6 linked regions of the Homo sapiens genome follow. The protein of the gene in region 6 interacts with the protein of the main gene of each other region in a pairwise test. Each region holds a gene or a part of one and is shown on either strand. Other genes may lie near its edges.

Region 1 (2,206 bases), on a different chromosome or scaffold from region 6:
TCCTGGGGTCTCCAAAGGGCTTGGGGTCGGGGAGTGGGGGAGCAAGACCATCGAGGGCAGGCTTCTTGCCTCCTACAGTCCCAGGTGTCCTTTTTGACGCTTCCTCTTCAAAACCCCTTTTGACCGGCTGTGGTGGCTCTTGCCTTTAATCCCAGCACTTTGGGAGGCCAAGGCAGGCGGATAAGTTGAGGTCAGGAATTTGAGACCAGCCTGGCCAACATGGTGAAACCCCATCTCTACTAAAAATATAAAAGTTAGCCAGGTGTGGTGGCAGGCACCTGTAGTCCCAGCTACTCGAGAGGCTGAGGCAGGGGAATCACTTGAACCCGGGAGGTGAAGGTTGCAGTGAGCTGAGATTGCACCACTGCACTCCAGCCTGGGCGACAGAATGGGACTCTGTCTCAAAAAAAACAAAACTCGCCAGGCACAGTAATCCTATAATCCTGTAATCCCAGCACTTTGGGAGGCCGAGGTGGGTGGATCACGAGGTCAGGAGTTCAAGACTAGCTTGGCCAAGATGGTGAAACCCCATCTGTACTAAAAACACAAAAATTAGCTGGGCGTGGGGGAGGGCACCTGTAATTCCAGCTACTCAGGAGGCTGAGGCAGAGAATTGCTTGAACCTGGGAGGCAGAGGTTGCAGTGAGCTGAGACTGTGCCACTGCACTCCAGTCTGGGTGAGACTGTGTCTCAAAAAACAAACAAACAAACAAATAAACAAACAAACAAACCATTTCACTGAAGACCAGTGCATTCCAGTCCTGCCTGAAACCTTCTATTTGCACCCTGGGCCACACAACTGAGCTGGGCACGGGGTTGAAAGGAGGTGGTCTCCTGGCTTCTGAACACCCTTGAGTAAGGCAGTTGGCCTTCAGCCTCCATTTACACATCTGTCCAGTGGGGTCTTGTCCAGTCCAAGTCCTCCTGGGCATGATGTGAGGGTTTGAGGAGAGGACATTGGTAACAGCGTCTTTCAAATGCCAGCTCCACCATCCCTCTCTCCCCTGCAGAGAACACAAACGCTTCAGGAGAAATTCAAGCCTGTGTCACCCGATCGCTCAGACCAGTGCGGCTCTGGCTGGAGGAGTCAGCAGCAGCTCCAGGCATGACCCCGGCACCCTCATAGGGCCCCTCACTACCCCCAGCACTGGGTCATTTCTTGCCAATAGGAAGGCTGGTGCTTCTCTCCCAGGCTGTCCTCGGGACCCTCTTCATTCTCTGATCTCATCCTGGAATGCATGAGAATAAAGAATAACCAAGTGGTATAAGCCTGGGCCTATGGGATAAGGATGGGGCACTCGAGGGGGCTCAGCAGGGCTTTCAGGTTTAGAAGAGGGAAGACCTGCCTTGGCTGGGCTGCCTGGGTTTAGCTTGGGGGAGTAAGGGCAGGTCTTAGGCCGGGTGCAGTGGCTCATTCCTGTAATCCCAGAACTTGGGAGGCCAAGGTAAGAGGACTGCCTGAGGCCAGGAGTTCGAGACCAGCTTAGGCAACATAGCAAGACCCTGACTCTACAAAAAAAAATTTTAAAATATAAAAGAAAGGAAAAGAAAAAGAGAAAGAAATGGCAGGTCCCCTGTGAGATAACCCAGATGACCCAGAGAGAAGGCCTGTATCCTGCCACACTGGCTGCCAAGATTGGAGATCATAAAATTTCCTGACCACTTCTCAGCCTAACACAGGGCTCTCAACCTTGAAATCCCATGGAAACTTTGCAAAGCTGTGGAAGCCCAGGTCCCATGCCCAGAGATTCACAGGTTCACATCTAATTCATCTGGGGTGAGGCCTGAGCTTTCAGAAAATTCCCCAGGTGATTTTTTTTTTTTAAGACGTAGTCTCCCTCTATTGCCCAGGCTGGAATGCAGTGGCGCGATCTCAGCTCACTGCAACCTCTGCCTCCCATGTTCAAGCGATTCTCCTACCTCAGCCTCCTGAGTAGCTGGGATTACAGGCGCATGCCACTGAGCCCAGCTAATTTTTGTATTTTTAGTAGAGATGGGGTATCACCATGTTGGTCAGGCTGGTCTTGAACTCCTGACCTCGTGATCTGCCCCGCTCAGTCTCCTAAAGTGCTGGGATTACAGGTGTGAGCCATCGAGCCTGGCCTTTTTTTTTTTTTTTTTTTTTTTTTTGAGACAGAGTCTTGCTCTGTCACCCAGGCTGGAGTGCAGTGGCACAATCTCGGCTCACTGCAACCTCGCCTCCCTG
Region 2 (3,500 bases), on a different chromosome or scaffold from region 6:
CCTAGGGTCTCTGTGCTTGACAGGCAGTTGGGGACTCTTGGGAGCCGCCACCTGGAGCTCAGCCAGACCCCTGGGACGTGTCCTTTTTTTTATTTTTTGAGTTGGAGTTTTGCTCTTGTTGCCCAGGCTGGAGTGCAATGGTGCGATCTTGGCTCACTGCAACCTCCGCCTCCAGAGTTCAAGCAATTCTCCTGCCTCAGCATCCCGAGTAGCTGGGATTACAGGCATGTGCCACCACACCCAACTAATTTTGTACTTTCAGTAGAGATGGGGTTTCTCCATGTTGGTCAGGATGGTCTCGAACTCCCGACGTCAGGCGATCCGCCTGCCTCAGCCTCCCAAAGTGCTGGGATTACAGGCGTGAGCCACCGCGCCCAGCCTTTAGCTGAGCATTTCTGCACAGGAAATATCAGTGTGACTTTGAAGGGTTTCCCCAGAGTAAAATTCTATATCCTTTCTTAGAAACCTCAATGCTTGGGCCTAACAACTTTTAGTTTTAAAATACGGAGTAATTAGCAATGGCTTTGGGGTCAGGAAATTGGGTTCCCACATCAGCTTTGTCCTTAACTATTGATCAAGTCAGATCCCTCGAGATTCCTCCTTTTTTTTCATATCTTTTCGTAAAAATTTCTGTAAAGCTGTAAAGCTCAGCTTGAAAATCTTTTTTTTCTTTTTTCTTTCTTTTTTTTTTTTTTTTTTTGGAGACAAAGTCTTACTCTGTCACCCAGGCTGGAGTGCAGTGGCATGATCTTGGCTCACTGCAACCTCTGCCTCCCGGGTTCAAAAGATTCTCCTGCCTCAGCCTCCCGAGTAGCAGGGATTACAGGCACCTGCCACCACACCCGGCTCATTTTTGTATTTTTAGTAGAGACAGGGTTTCAACATCTTGGCCAGGCTGGTCTTGAACTCCTGACCTCGTGATCCACCCGCCTCAGCCTCCCAAAGTGCTGAGATTATGGGCGTGAGCCACTGCGCCCGGCCAGCTTGAAAATCTTTGACCAGCTGGGTGCAGTGGCTCATACCTATAATCCCAGCACTTTGGGAGGCCAAGGCAGGAGGATCGCTTGAGCCGAGGAGTTCGGGACCAGCCTGGGCAACATAAGAAGATGCCATCTCTACGAAAAAATTTTTTAAATTAGCGGGGCATGGTGATGCACACCTATAATCCCAGCTACTTGGGAGACTAAGGTGGGAGGATCAGTTGAGCTGGGGAAGTTGAGGCTGCAGTGAACCATGATCATGCCATTGCACTCCAGCCTGGGTGACAGAGTGACTCTGTCTCAAAAAAACAAAAAAATTACTATCCTTTGTCATTGTTGTTATTGTTGTTTTTGAGACAGGATCTCACTCTGCCACCCAGGCTGGAGTGCAGTATCATGGCTCACCCCAGCCTAAACCTCCCGGGCTCATACGCTCCCCCAACTTCAGCCTCCTGAGTAGCTGGGACCACGGGTATGCACCACCATACCCAGCTAATTTTTAATTTTTTTTTTTTTTTTAGAGACAAGAGCTCCCTTTGGTTGCCCAGGCTGGTCTCGAACTTCTGGGCTCAAGTGATCCTCCTGCTTTGGCCTCCCAAAGTGCTGGGATTATAGGCATAAGCCACTGTGCCTGTCCTACTATCATTTTTTTTCTAATGACATCGTGCTCCCCTTTTCCCAAAACTGAAGTTTCGCGTACAAATATGCTTTGGCCTAAAAATTCTGGTTCGGTTTTTTCTCTTAATTCGTGGTTCTTTGGTACTGTTCCTTTTATTGTAAACTGCCACAATTATTATTATTATTGGAACTGGCACAATAGAAATAACACCACCATTCTTACCTCAAAGGTAATAACATTCATTAATGATTTCTCATTTGGGCTCCAGTAACACTGTGAGGGGATCAGTGCGTTGACCCTCTATGTGGAAGTTATCATTTTTGCTGCTGATGACAATGAAGCCCTTCACGTGTGTCTTGTTAGTTTCCTTTTGGTTGGTTTTTAGTAAAGATGGAGAAGTGCTCCCTGCTGCCACTTCTTAAACGACCAACGTCCAGGTTTGCTGTCCTGTCTTACTCGTTTGATTTTATAGCTCTGCAGTTTCTATTGAAGTAGACACTCCTAACACAGGGGTAGGTGTAAATGTGATACCTTTGGGAAGAGGCACTTAGTCCCCGAGGTCCTTGGAGTTGCTCCAGCTCTCAAGGAGGAGGCCAAAGGTGCAGCGTCTGGAGCAGCTCTGACTGGGGTGAAAGGTGAGGAGGAGATGACCTGGAGTTAGTGGGTCTCTCGAATAGTGATGGACCCAAGTGAGTGGTTTCCTGTTGCCCTAGGAACAGATGGAAATATTGAAAGGAACTGCTGTCAGCTTGAATTTAGCCTGGGCTGGGGAGGTAGACACCGCTCTCAGCCAAGCTCCTTCCCTTGGCCGGCCTCGGCTGCCCCGGGTACAAAGTGAGACGTCGGCCTAGATGCTTTCTGAGAGGAGTCCCCAGCTGTTACATTCTGTAGGCCCCTATACAGGAGACTGTGCTTGGGATCAGCCTGCTGGGGCTGCAGGGACCCTCCCTGTGCTTTGCAGGTGTTTGTCCCAGAGATGGCAGCGCGGAGGCAACGCGTCCAACTCCTGCACCGTTCTCTCCCTGCTCGGAGCCCCCTGTGCCTTCATGGGCTCAATGGCTCCTGGCCATGTTGCTGAGTAAGTCCAGGAGGGAGAGCCCACTGGGGAAGGCCTGCCTGCATCATTGTGGGAGAAGAAGGATGTATCCACCCTGGGTGGATGGGGGATTAGAAATGGGTTGTGTCCAGCAGAAACGCGGGGAGGGGGCATGGCGGAGCACCAGACGCCCAGCCCTGCCTTGGCGTGGCCTCTCTGCGGTTCGGGGGCTGATGCTGCCCCTGTGAAGCTTTCCTTGCCACAGCTTGTTTCCTGGACACTTCTGGAGCCTGCTTCAGCCTCTTCCTTTCTCCTTCCTTGCTTCCTGCAGACTCTGCGGTGGATGTGCCTTTGCCTTATCTTAAGTCCCTTATCCTGGCCATGCTTGAGGCAGAAGGCAGTTAGGGACACGTGGTACCCATCCTCCCCCAGGTCCAGGCCCACAGTTTCTGTCCCAGTTGAGAGGCAGGGCTGGTGCTCATGTCCCTGTTGTTCACTGAAGCAGTGAGAGTACCCTGTTCAAGGACACCCTGAAGCCACATGCTAAAGCTGGGCTCAGAACCCACACCTCCCAGTTCCCCGGCTGTCAGGGCTATAGCCCTAAATGGCTCATGCACGCCCTCCATGTTGGCTGCTGCAGGGACCTCAGAGCCCTTTGACCCCTGGCGCTGCCGACTCAGCAAGCACTTATCGGGAGGTGAGGCCCACACTTTGCACACTGTGGGCACGGGGGCAGGCTGCCAGGTTGCTGGCCTGTGAAGGGCAGCCCTTTGAACCCTGGTTTGAAGGGGGCTGCTGGCAGAGTCCAACCACCTGAGCTACAGCCAAACTCCCTGCCTTGATGAACTGGCAGGAAGAGAATAGA
Region 3 (3,500 bases), on a different chromosome or scaffold from region 6:
TAGCTATTCAGGAGGCTGAGGCATGAGAATTGCTTGAACCCGGGAGGCAGAAGTTGCAGTAAGCCAAGATCGCGCCACTGCATTCCAGCCTGGGCAACAGAGTAAGACTCTGTCTCAAAAAAAAAAAAAAAAAAAAGAAGAAAAGAAAGGAGGGAACTCTTGATACATGCAACAAGCTGGGTGAGTTTTCAGATAACTATACTGAGTGAAAAACACCAATACCCCAAAATTACATACTGTAACATTCCCTTAATATAACATTCTTGAAGTGACAAAATTATAAACAGAGAACAGATCAGTAGTTACCAGGTGTTAGGGATGGGGCAGGTTGGAAGGAAAGGATGACATGAGGAAAGTGAATGTGATTATCAAAGGGCAAGATGAGGCATCATTGCAGTGATAGAAACGTTCTATGTCTTCACTGGAGGTAGACATTAAAACTACTTGTGATAAAACTGCAAAGAACTAAATACACACACACAAATTAATTACAAGTAAACCTGGGAACATCTCAGTAAGATCTGTGGAGTGTATCAATGCCACTACCTTGGATGTGATATTTTACTATAGTTTTAAAGATGTCATCCTTTGGGGGAAATGGCTAAAGCATAAACAGTTCTCTGCATTATTTCTTACAACTGTGTGTGAATCTAAAATTATCTCAAACCGAAAAGTTTAGTTTGAAAAGAGTCACACTAGCTGACATTAAAAATACTGGTGAATCAGGCTGGGCGCAGTGGCTCACGCCTATAATCCCAGCACTTTGGGAGGCAGAGGCGGACAGATCACCCGAGGTTGAGAGTTGGAGACCAGCCTGACCAACATGGAGAAACCTCGTCTCTACTAAAAATACAAAAAAATTAGCCAGGCGTGGTGGTGCATGCCTATAATCCCAGCTACTTGGGAGGCTGAGGTAGGAGAATCACTTGAACCCAGGAGGCGGAGGTTGCAGTGAGCCGAGATCGCACCATTGTACTCCAGCCTGGGCAACAAGAGCAAAACTCCATCTCAAAAAAAAAAAAAAAAAAAAACAAAAAAAAAAAAACTGGTGGATCAAGGTTAAATAATGCTATTTGCAATATGTATCATTTCTTTTTTATGTATTTATGTATTTATTTATTTTGAGATGGAGTTTCGCTCTTGTTGCCCAGGCTGGAGTTAAGTGGCATGATCCCAGCTCACTGCAACCTCTGCCTCTGGGTTCAAGTGATTCTCCTGCCTCGGCCTCCGGAGTAGCTGGGATTACAGGTGCCCGCCACCACACCCGGCTAATTTTTTGTATTTTTAGTAGAGACGGGTTTTCACCATGTTGGTCAGGCTGGTCTCAAACTTCTGATGTCAGGTGATGCACCCGCCTCACCCTCCCAAAGTGCTGGGATTACAAGTGTGAGCCACCACGCCCAGCATTATGTATCATTTCAAACTCACCAAAATAGGGAGGGATGAAGACAGATAAAGAGGCAGTATTTTGGCCATTGTAATTTCCCATTAAAGTTGGATAATTCGCTGTCTCAGTGCTGTTTTTACTGCTGTTTGCTGGTCTTTCTGGCATTTCTGTAAATAAAAAGTTTTCAAGAGCTGTAATACAAGAACTTCACCCACAAATTCTATACAAAGCAAAATTATCCTTCAAGAAAGAAAGAGAAACAGACATTCACACACAAAGGAAAACAAAAAGAATTTGTCCCCAGCAGACTTACCCTTAAAGAAAGGTTAAAGAAAACTCCTCAATCAAAAAAAGAAGATGATGAAAGAAGGAATCTTGGAGCATCAGGAAGAAAGAACAAAAGAAAGAGCAGAAATATGCATTTAGAGAAAGTAGATCACCCATATATAGCTGGCAAGAATGTCAGATGATACAGCGCCCCTGGAAAATAGTTAGGCAGTTTCTCATAAAACTAAACATGCATATGTCCAAACTCATTACATTGGGTATAATAAATATGTGCAGTTTTTTACTTATCAATTACTATGGTTTGAAGGTATCCTTTCCAAAATTCAGGTGTTGCCAATGTGATCGTATTAAGAAATGGGACCTTTAAGATGATTAAGCTATGAGGGCTCCTCCCTCATGAATGGGATGGAGGCCCTTATAAAAGAGGCTTCACACGGCATTTTGAAATCTTGTCCTTCTACCTTCTGCCATGTGAGGACACAGTGCTCCTCTCTTGCAGAGGATGCAGCCCTCACCACACAAACCGGCTGGCACCTTGCTTTTGAACTTCCCAGCCTCTGGAGCTGTGAGAAACTACATTTCTGTTCTTTTTCAATCACCCAGTCTATGGTATTTTGTTATAGTAACACAAACAGACCAAGACATTAATATCTCAATAAAGATTTGTTTTTTTAAAAAAACCTAAACATGCAATTAATATATAACCAGCAGTTGCACTCTTGGGTAATCATGTCAGAGAAATGAAAACTTCCATTTACACAAAAACTTGTATATGAATTTTCATAGCAGCCTTACTACTAATAGTCAAAAACTGGAAAAATAATTTCCTTCAATAGATGAATGGTTAAACCATGGCACACCTATACCATGGAATAGTACTTGGCAATAAAGGAACTACTGAAACACACAACTTGGTTGAGTCTCCAGGGGATTATGTTGAGTAAAAAAAAGCCAGTACCAAAAGGTTACATACTATATGCATCCAATTATATAACAATATTGAAGTGACAAAATTATAGAGATGGAGAAGAGATCACACTTGCCAAAGGTTAGGAATAGGTAAGTGGGGGAAGGAAAAGGAGGATGGGTTTGGTTATAGAAAGGCAAGACAAGCAAACTTTCTGGTGATAGAACGGTTCTGTATCTTGACTATGGTAGGAACATACAAACTTTCTCATCTGATAAAATTGTTTTAAAAAAAAAAGCCGAAAGTCAGACACACAAATGAATACAAACTACAGTCTTATGAGATGTTACCACTGGGGAAAATTGGGGAAAGGGTATCTCTCTGTATTATTTCTTACAACTACATATGAATCTATAATGGCTTCAAGATAAAACTTTTAATTTAAAAAATAACTAACACTAATTTGCATGAAGGGTGTTTTAAAATCTAGATTGAAGAATGCTATCTGTAATATGTGTCATTTCAAACTCACCCAAATTGGGATGGAAGCAGAAAGATGACAAGGCTCTACCTGGGCCCACATTTTCATTTTCTGGTAGAGCAGAGTAATTCACCACACCAGGGTTATTTGCCAGACTGGATTCTCTTCGTGACAGAACTGCCATAGGTACTGCTGTAGTAGCATTGGCAAATGAGATGACAGCATTGGTACTTTCAGCACCTCCACTGATAAAGTTCCATGGCATACCGAAACAAGGAAATGAGCCACCTTGTGCGACATACTGCTGTAATGAACTTGAGGAGACAATTCTGGGATATGATAAACTCTCACTGAGGTCTGCTTCCTGCAGTTCATGACATGCTGCTGACTCAAGAGATGTTACAGCAGGGCTGGCCCAGGCATGGGTTTCCTGCCTT
Region 4 (3,500 bases), on a different chromosome or scaffold from region 6:
CCAGCAACTGGAGAAGAGAAAGCAAATGGCTATGAATACCCACTACAAGAACTGGCAGAAGATCAAGGGGAGCAAAGACAGCAAATATGCTATTAAATTAGGCATGGTTAGAAATCGTGGCTGGTTGGAAGCTGATCCAGGCAAAGCTGGTATATTGAAAACTAGGGAAGTTTGGGGGCCAGAGGTCAGAGGTCCAATGACAGGTAGAGAACAGACGCTTTAGGAGTTCAAGAAGAAGGGGGAGATGTAATGAGGTAATCAAGACCAAGTCAATGTGAAACAGTCCGAAGTCCCAAAGCTGGGCTATACCTATGGGCCCCAAGGTGAGTACAGATGGCTCCTAATCTGAAGATTCTCCACTGTGCTATTACATGTAATCCCAAACCAAACTTATAAGAATACTGGCCTTCCCTGGCATTTGAGTTTTATTCTGCCTCTTTAAAAGGGCTACTCAGAATAAATCAGTCTCCTTTGCAGAGTCAGGAGAAGGGAAACCAGCCTCTCTGTGCAGTGTTAGCATGATGAGCTAAGAGTTCAGAAATGACTGTAAATGAAAAATGGTGATAATGATAGCAGCTATCATTTACTGAATGCTTCCCACGGGCCAGCTGCCATGCTGATTTCCTTTATGTTGATTATGTCATTGTATATCTTGTGACAGATCTTCAGGGTAGGGGCTATTTTTGTCCCTGTTTCAGAGCTGAGGAAGAAAAGGTTAGGTATTGGAGCTGAGACTTAAACCCTAGTGTGACTGAATCCAAAGCCTGTACTTTTAACCATGAGGCTAAAACCATTTCATCAAAAGCCTTTCTGCTATTCATGTTCTTAACATCATAGAACTGGTAGGGACTATAGAGAGGTCCTTTAATCACAGATTCAAACTAGCCTAAATCCCAAAGCCCTGGAGAATGCATCCCAGGCATTCATTTTTTGAAAGAGACCTAGAGAGGAAAAGTCACGGGGCTGGAACTAAAACATGGGCTTCTTGAATCCCTGTCTAGCTCTTATTCTATTTCTCAGGTTGCCGTGGACCAAAATGAACTCTCAGTCTATTTGTCTTATCAAATTGCAGTCTTCAGCAAGTGTCTGAATAACTTGGTCAGGACCTTCCTTCCAGGAAGAGCCTGGTGACCCTCTGAAAGCAGCCATGTACTTGGGAGTTCTCCTGCACACCCATGGTTTTTGATGCTCACTATAGTGACTAGGCAGCTGGAGGATTCCAATCCTAATGATACGGAGAACACAAAACAATATGAGACACTGGGTCCCCCAGCCTTCTTCTCTGGGCCTGAGGGGAGATTTGAATTAGCAACTCCTCACATGAGCTGCATTCTTTAGCCTTAATTTAAGTGGGCAGAGGTGAATGAAAATGTGTAAATGTTGAAGTGTTATTATTCAAAAGCCCTTGAGATCCCATAGCTCATCGTAGTAATTAAAATGCAGCACAGAAGACCCCTTGCTTCAGTAGCTCACAGGGTATAAGGAAAATGAATGAGGATCACAAGTTGATGGGATTGGGAATTAGCATGCTGGTGTGCCATATTGAGTAGAACAGCTGGCCTCGATGTATGGGTAGCATAAGAAACAGGCCTCCCTCCCTGTGTGCCACTATCTCCTTGTTTCTCTCCTAGAAGGGCAGACTGTGGGGAGGGCAGAGCTCGGGGAACATGGGAAGTAGTGTAGGAGAAAGGCCTAAGGGTCTCTTCTGCAACTTCACTAGTCCCTGGGCGTGAGGTTTGTTGCCCAGGGTGGTCTCTAACTCCTGAGCTCAAGTGATCCTCCTCTCTCAGCCTCCCAAAGTGCTGGGATTACAGGCATGTACTGCCACACCTGGCCCTTCTCTGCCTTTTCTAATGTATTTTTACTTCTCTGTAAGCCTGACAAGGTCTTATTTCTCCTTCAGTGCTCAGCTCGAAAGCTACCTCTTCTGAGAAGCCTTCTGGTTCGAAGTAATCAGGCTTTCCTTTTTGTCTGCCAAGCATATGATTTATGCCTGTCTTAAAGCATCTATTGAGGCAGACTTGGTGTCTTTATTTTTTTTATTTTTTATTTTTTGGTGAGACAAGGTCTCGCTGTGTCTCCCAGGCTGGAGTGCAGTGGCATGATCACAGCTCACTGCAGCCTTGAATTCCTGGACTCAAATTATCCTCCCATCTCAACCTCCCAAGTAGCTGGGACAGCAGGTGTGCACCACCACACCCAGCTAATTTTTAAATTGTTTATAGAGATGAGGTCTCGCCATGTTGCCCAAGCTGATCTTGAACTCCTGAGCTCAAGCAATCCTCCCACCACAGGCTCCCAAAGCGTTGGGATTACAGGCGTGAGCCACCACACCCGGCCTCTTTATCCTCATATCCACCTGGGTGCCTCCTGAGGACAGACACTTCATACATTTGTCCATGGGATGAGTGGTTACAGTGACAGTTCTGGGGCCTGTCTCAGAGTTTCTCACTTCAGCCCTCTCACCATATTACCTTCTGTCCCTTCCTTCTGCTGTTCAGAGTTATAAGGATGGTGAAGGTAATGAATGCTTGTGAAGTGCTTTATATCTTACAGAGTACTTTCATGTACCTTATCTTTGATGATCCTTGTGACAGACCTGTGAGGAACGGAGAAGTAGTTGGTCTCATCTGTGAGCAAAGTGTGTTGTAACGGACCCTGTGTGGAGGATAATAACAATTTCAACATCTATTGAGAGCGTGGCATGTGCTAGACACGGTTCTTAATGCATTACACGTATAATTTAATTACCGCAACAATCCCCCAATTAAGATCCCAGAATTGCACAAAGAAGTGATTTGCTTAAAAACTGCTTCTTGATCAGTATATTCTATTGTTAGCACCTTGTCCCTAAGAGACCTTATATTATCCTTACTTTGCAGAAGGAAGAAACCATTGAGTAATTCTTTTCCCACCCATTGATCTGCCAAAAAAAACTCATCTTGGCCTTGGATGTAGTTTTTAATGGGAACAAGAACACCAGCCTTAGGGTCTTGGATCTCGGCAAGCTTTTCAGATACCAAAGTGTCTTTCTTAGGAATTGCCTGGCTAAGTCATATGATTATAAGAATTTCTTTCCATCATTTCTTATATTCCACAAAATATTGGTGGATTGTGGTTTCTCTAATAGGATTATGACCCTCAGAGATTCTTCCTCCACATATTTCCTTCCTCCGTAAGTTTCCATTCTTTCCTTCTACCCACTTCCTTCCCCTTGGCATGTGTCTGGTATTGAGCCCTTGGCATCTGTCTCTCTTTCATCATTGATAGCTAGCATGAATGGGTGGCTGTTTCACAGGGCCTGCATTGTTGGCTCCCACAGCAGCAGTTAGAACATTCTCTGTGGCCTGGGTTCTGAGGTCCACCCAGGCAGTGTGAGCCAGGCTGGCCCCCAGTTCTGAGCTGTGGTGTTTCCTTTCATTGTTGGTGCCTTAGCTCCCAGTTGTTAAATATGAAGCTGGAAGTTGATACAAAGCAGTAGAAGCCTGTGCTCCTTTTAC
Region 5 (3,500 bases), on a different chromosome or scaffold from region 6:
AGAATCGCTTGAACCTGGGAGGCGGAGGTTGCAGTGAGCCGAGATCTCACCACTGCAGTCCAGCCTGGGGGACAGAACGAGACTCCATCTCAAAAAAAAAAAAAAAAAAAAAAAGTACAGCCCACCTATACAGGGCATGAATTATGAATGGAGCTTGCAGGGTGGGAAGTTGCTGTGGGTGGGTGAGTGAACGTGGAGGCCTAAAGCATTAGTGTATGTCCTGCACACTTAGTATACAACACTCAACACTCAGGCTACACTCATTTTTAAACACTTTCTTCAGTAATAAATTAACCTAAGCTTACTGTAACTTGATGTTTAAACTTTTTGCTTTTTTTAATTACACTCAGTTTAAAACACAAATACATTGTACAGCTGTACAAAAATATTTTCTTTAGAACCTCATTCTACAAGCTTTTATTTATTTATTTTTTGACATGGAGTCTCGCTCTGTTGCCCAGGCTGGAGTGCAGTGTCGCAATCTCGGCTCACTGCAAGCTCTGCCTCCCGGGTTCACGCCATTCTCCTGCCTCAGCCTCCCGAGTAACTGGGACTACAGGCACCTGCCACCACGCTCGGCTAATTTTTTGTATTTTTAGTAGAGATGGGATTTCACCATGTTAGCCAGGATGGTCTTGATCTCCTGATCTCATGATCTGCCCACCTTGGCCTCCCAAAGTGCTGGGATTACAGGCATGAGCCACCGCACCCGGCCTCTATAAGCTTTTATTTTTAAGGATTTTAAAATTTTTAAGTTGGACTTTAATTTTTTGAGACAGTATTTTTTTTTTTTTTTTTGAGATGTAGTCTTCCAGGCTGGAGAGCAGTGGCACGATCTCGGTGCACTGCCACGATCTCAGTGCACTGCAGCCTCAGCTTCCCAAGTAGCTGGGATTACAGGTGTGTGCCACCATGCCTGGCTAATTTTTTTTTTTTTTTTTTTTTGAGATGGAGTCTCGCTCTGCCACCAGGCTGGAATGCAGTGGCATGAATGTCGGCTCACTGCAACCTCCAACTCCCTGGTTCAAGCAATTCTCCTACCCCAGCCTCCCGAGTAGCTGGGATTACAGGCACACGCCACCACGCCCAGCTGATTTTTGTATTTTTAGTAGAGACGGGATTTTACCGTGTTAGCCCGGACGGTCTTGATCTCCTGACCTCGTGATCCGCCTGCCTCGGCCTCCCAAAGTGCTGGGATTACAGGCGTGAGCCACTGTACCTGGCTAATTTTTGTATTTTTAGTAGTAGAGATGGAGTTTCTTCACGTTGGCCAGGCTGGTTTTGAACTCCTGACCTCAAGTGATCCACCCACCTCAGCCTCCCAAAGTGCTGGGATTACAGGTGTGAGCCACCATGCCCGGCCAAGGATTTGAATTTTTTGCTTAAAAACTAAGACACACACTATCCTAGGCCTGCACAGGGTCAGGGTCATCCATGTCACCATCTTCGACCTCCACATCTTGTCCCACTGGAAGGTCTTCAGGGACAATAATACATTTAGAGCTGTCATCTCCTATGACGACAGTGCCTTCTTTTGGATACCTCCAAAAAGTCTTGAAGGACCTGCCTGAGGCCGTTTTACAGTTAAAAAAAATTTTTTTTTTTTTTTGATACAGAGTCTCACTCTGTTGCCCAGGCTGGAGGGCAGTGGCACCATCTCAGCTCACTGCAACCTCCACCTCCCAGGTTAAGCGATTCTCACGCCTCAGCCTCCCAAGTAGCTGGGATTACAGGCTGGCGCCACCATGCCTAGCTAATTTTTGTATTTTTAGTAGAGACGGGGTTTCACCATGTTTCCCAAGCTGGTCTGGAACTCCTGACCTCAGGGGATCTGCCTGCCTCAGCCTACCAAAGTGCTGGGATTATAGGTGTGAGCCAATGCTGTGGCTGGCCTACAGTTGACTTTTTAAATAAGTAGGAGTATATTCTAAAGTAATGATAAAAAGTATAGTAAATAATCTAATAACATATTTATTATCATTATCAAATATTAGGTACTATACATAATTGTATGTGATCTTTTTTTTTTTTTTTTTGAGATGGAGTTTCACTCTTGTCACCCAGGCTGGATGGAGTGCAATGGCACAATCTCGGCTCACCACAACCTCCACCTCCCAGTTTCAAGCGATTCTCCTGCCTCAGCCTCCCAAGTAGCTGGGATTACAGGTGCGCTGTACCTGTAGCCAAGCCTGGCTATTGTATTTTTAGTAGAGACGGAGTTTCTCCATGTTCCCCAGGCTGGTCTGGAATTCCTGACCTCAGGTGATCCGCCCGCCTCAGCCTCCCAGAGTGCTGGGATGACAGGTGGGAGCTGTCGTGCTCTACTTTTATTTCTGAGACAGGTTCTCTCTCCGTCCGCTGGGCTGGAGTGTAGATGCATGATCACAGCTCACTGCAGCCTCAACCTCCCAGGCTCAGGTGACACTTCCATCTCAGCCTCCGAAGTAGCTGGGCATGTACCACCACACACAGCTAATTTTTAAATTTTTTTGTAGAGACGGGATCTCACTATGTTGCCCAGGCTGGAGTGCAATGTCGTGATCTTGGCTCACTGCAACCTCCACCTCCCGGGTTCAAGTGATTCTCCTGCCTCAGCCTTCCAAGTAGCTGGGATTACGGGTGCTCGCCACCACGCCTGGCTAATTTTTTGTATTTTGAGTAGAGACAGAGTTTCACTATGTTGGCCAGGCTGGTCTCGAACGCCTGACCTCAGGTCATCCGCCCACCTCGGCCTCCCAAAGTACTGGGATTACAGGCGTGAACCCCCGCGCCTGGCCTGCTTGTGGGGGTTTTCACGGATGCTCTTGATCAGGCTGAAGAAACTCCTTTTATTCCTAGTTTGTTGAATGTTTTTATCATGAAAGCGTGTTGGAGGTTGTCAAATGTTTTGTGTCTATTCAGTGATCACACGGTTTTTGTCCTTTTCTCTACTGATCTGGTATGCAGGCATCCCCATCACACACTAGGCTTGGTGACTGCACTTGAGGGACTCACAGGACTTAGCCTACCATCATACTAGTGGCTGGGATTTACTACGGTGAAAAGATGCGACGCAGAATTAGTAACAGGAAGATGCATTTGGGGTGAGGGCCGGAGGAAACCAGGTACAAGCCCCCAGAGTCCCCTCCCCTGGGGTCCCCTCCCGCAGAATGTGCTGAATCCTCCAGCCTCGAGCTGTGACATGTGCAAAGTGTTCTCTACCAGGGAAGCCTGCCTGAGCCCAGGAGTCCAGGGTTTTCACTGGGGGTTGCTCATGTAGGTACGTTGTGCCTGCGTGACTGAATATGGTCACCGAAATGCCAGGCTCAGAAGAAAAGCAAGTGTTCAGCAAATATCACATGATTTGTATAGAAAAGAGTGAGCAGTTGTTATTTGGGGATAGTATTGTATCCACATAGGAGCTCTTTACCAGTCAAGTTCCCAGATGCCAGCTGGGCGTGGTGGCTCATGCCTGTAATCCCAGCACTTTAGGAGTCCGAGGCGGGTGGATCACTTGAGGT
Region 6 (2,517 bases):
AGGTTCCGTGTCTTTCACTTCCTCTTAGTAACTCATTATTATTGCCTGATTCTCATGTGTTCTTTATCGCATTCCCAGACTTACTGACCACAAAACATTTAAAACATTTTACCAACAAGAACTTGTGGGGTTTATTGTCTGCTGAAAGGCAACTGCCAAAAAAGGAAAAAGAAAAAAAAAAAAGGAATGTCTCAAAGAACCATTAGGAAAAGGATCAAGATTTGTCTGGTGTGTGTGTTTGGTGTGTCTGATAGAAATGCAACATGAGGCACACATTTAATTTTAAGTTTTAAATGTCCTAGTAGCCTCCTTGAAGAAATGAAGAGAGACAAGTAAAAGTAAAATTAATTTTAATAATGTATTTTGCTTAACTCAGTATAGCCAAACTATTAATCATTTCGACATGTAATCAATATAAAAATTATTGAGATATTCTACCTGCTTTTTTTTTCATATTCAGCCTTCAGATAGGTTGTGTGTTTTCACCTGCAGACTGGTTGAATTTGGGCTAATGCCATTTTAAGTGCTCAGCAGCCATACGTGGCTCGTGGCTGTGATATTCGGGAGTACAGCTCAGCTCTGGAACCACCTATCAGAAAGAGAAGCCCAGCCGTAGCCCATTAGATAGAGTGAAATTTTTGTTTTATTTTATTAAGAGCAAAATATTGGCCAGGTGCAGTGGCTCACATCTGTAATCCCAACGCTTTAGGAGGCTGAGGCAGGAGGGATCACTTGAAGCCTGGAGTTTGAGACCAGCCTGGTCAACATTGCAAGACCCCGTCTCTACAAAAAATAACTTAAAAAGTTAGCGGGGCCGGTGGTGCTCACCTATCTATAGCCCCAGCTACCCAGGAGGCTGAGGCGGGAGGATCGCTTGATCCCAGGAGTTAGAAGCTGCAGTGAGTCGAGATTGTGTCACTGCACTTCAGCCTGGGGGACCAAGCCAGACCCTGTCTGCAAACAAAAACAAAAACAAAAAAACCAAAAAAGCAAAATATTGCCAACCTGACTTTTTGGATCCTCTTGGCAAAACACAGATCAGCGTCCCCAGAGGCAGCAGAGCTCTGAGTGAAGCAGTCGGGGGGATGCTCTGCCTGCCTTCCGCTCACCAGCCCTTCCCTGTCGTCCCCCGCAGGTCTGGTTCCAGAACGCCCGAGCCAAGTTCAGGCGCAACCTCTTACGGCAGGAAAACACGGGCGTGGACAAGTCGACAGACGCGGCGCTGCAGACAGGGACGCCATCGGGCCCGGCCTCGGAGCTCTCCAACGCCTCGCTCAGCCCCTCCAGCACGCCCACCACCCTGACAGACTTGACTAGCCCCACCCTGCCAACTGTGACGTCCGTCTTAACTTCTGTGCCTGGCAACCTGGAGGGCCATGAGCCTCACAGCCCCTCACAAACGACTCTTACCAACCTTTTCTAATGACTCGCAACCCCTCACCCCACAATTTCTTTAAAAAAGAAATTATCTTTAGTTGAATTCCAAGTGTATTTTAAAATAGAGGCTTTGAGCAACTAACTAACCACATTTTAGGATCTCGCCTGGAAACAGAGGTAAAAAAAAGAAGTGTGCGCCCGGCTAATGCAGCGGTGTGGACCGAGGAACAACTTGGAAGATCTACCTGCAACACAACATTTGTGTCACTGTACAGTTTTGTGGACTGAGCGAGGAAAAACAACAAATAATTTAAGTTGGCTAGAGCTTCTGTATTTTCAAAGACTGCCACGTGCCTTAGGAATACTGTTTTATCTCCATACTTTGGATGACTTGTTCATTTTTCTCTCCCTCTTTTTCTCTGTATATTTATGACCAGAGCAAAAATGTAAAAAACAAAAAAAACAACAAAAAAAGTTTGTTACTTTGAATAGTCCTAAAAAGAAAAAAAGAAAAAAAAAAAAGGAAAAATCAAACCCCCTCCAACGGTCGCTTTGTTGTTTTAGAATTTTAAGGTGGAAGTCTGTTCGAATATCAGAATTTGTAAAATCTAACCAGTAATAAAACCACTTATTGAAACTACTTGGGGCTGCTGCCATTTGGTTGGGTGTGAAATTGACAGGACCTAAGAGTTTTACTGAGGCCCAGAGATCAATTCTAGGTCTTCACATATTCATCAGATATTCCTGGGGCTCCTGTCTTGTGCCAGGCTTTGGACGGATTACAGAGATGCCGAGACAAAGATCCAATTCCTGCTCTCAAGGAATCAGAATGGTGACACGGGACAGACAAAAGATATCTTAACAGGGTGTGATATGTGCTCAAGTGGAGGATATGCAACATCCCATTCATTCATTCATTCATTATTCATTCATTCATTCTTTCAAATATTTAATGAGCACACCCTGCCAGATGCTTGTGATGCAGAGGTCAGAGGCCCTTTTCTGCTCCTGGCTGGGCTGGAAAGAAGGCATGTCAGGCGATGAGGGAGGCCTCCTGAAAAACCTGCAGCTTTTCCCTACGAGGAGTGAACGCAGTTAACAAAGGGCAGCTTAAGCTCCAGTTTTCCTAATGACACAAAA

What was found.
Region 1: the proteins of LHX2 (region 6) and MORN3 interact in binary tests that used the Homo sapiens proteins (3 or more experiments, as listed by UniProt).
Region 2: the proteins of LHX2 (region 6) and KHK interact in binary tests that used the Homo sapiens proteins (3 or more experiments, as listed by UniProt).
Region 3: the proteins of LHX2 (region 6) and BEND2 interact in binary tests that used the Homo sapiens proteins (3 or more experiments, as listed by UniProt).
Region 4: the proteins of LHX2 (region 6) and ANKS1A interact in a two-hybrid assay, tested with the Homo sapiens proteins (one large-scale study listed by BioGRID).
Region 5: the proteins of LHX2 (region 6) and FLYWCH1 interact in binary tests that used the Homo sapiens proteins (3 or more experiments, as listed by UniProt).

Annotation. Positions count from the first base shown.
Region 1 is NC_000012.12:121,650,449-121,652,654, reverse strand, and holds part of MORN3 (MORN repeat-containing protein 3), read left to right. Parts: intron 1-1,010; 3' UTR 1,011-2,206. UniProt on the Homo sapiens protein: Assembles a suppression complex (suppresome) by tethering SIRT1 and MDM2 to regulate composite modifications of p53/TP53.
Region 2 is NC_000002.12:27,089,772-27,093,271, forward strand, and holds part of KHK (ketohexokinase), read left to right. Parts: intron 1-2,560; coding exon 2,561-2,677; intron 2,678-3,500. UniProt on the Homo sapiens protein: Catalyzes the phosphorylation of the ketose sugar fructose to fructose-1-phosphate.
Region 3 is NC_000023.11:18,200,387-18,203,886, forward strand, and holds part of BEND2 (BEN domain-containing protein 2), read right to left. Parts: coding exon 3,115-3,500; intron 1,555-3,114; coding exon 1,429-1,554; intron 1-1,428.
Region 4 is NC_000006.12:35,011,255-35,014,754, forward strand, and holds part of ANKS1A (ankyrin repeat and SAM domain-containing protein 1A), read left to right. Parts: intron 1-3,500. UniProt on the Homo sapiens protein: Regulator of different signaling pathways. Regulates EPHA8 receptor tyrosine kinase signaling to control cell migration and neurite retraction.
Region 5 is NC_000016.10:2,942,931-2,946,430, reverse strand, and holds part of FLYWCH1 (FLYWCH-type zinc finger-containing protein 1), read right to left. Parts: intron 3,105-3,500; exon of another isoform or gene 2,947-3,104; intron 1-2,946. UniProt on the Homo sapiens protein: Transcription cofactor. Negatively regulates transcription activation by catenin beta-1 CTNNB1, perhaps acting by competing with TCF4 for CTNNB1 binding. May play a role in DNA-damage response signaling.
Region 6 is NC_000009.12:124,031,285-124,033,801, forward strand, and holds the end of LHX2 (LIM/homeobox protein Lhx2), read left to right. Parts: intron 1-1,135; coding exon 1,136-1,423; 3' UTR 1,424-2,017; downstream 2,018-2,517. UniProt on the Homo sapiens protein: Acts as a transcriptional activator. Stimulates the promoter of the alpha-glycoprotein gene. Transcriptional regulatory protein involved in the control of cell differentiation in developing lymphoid and neural cell types.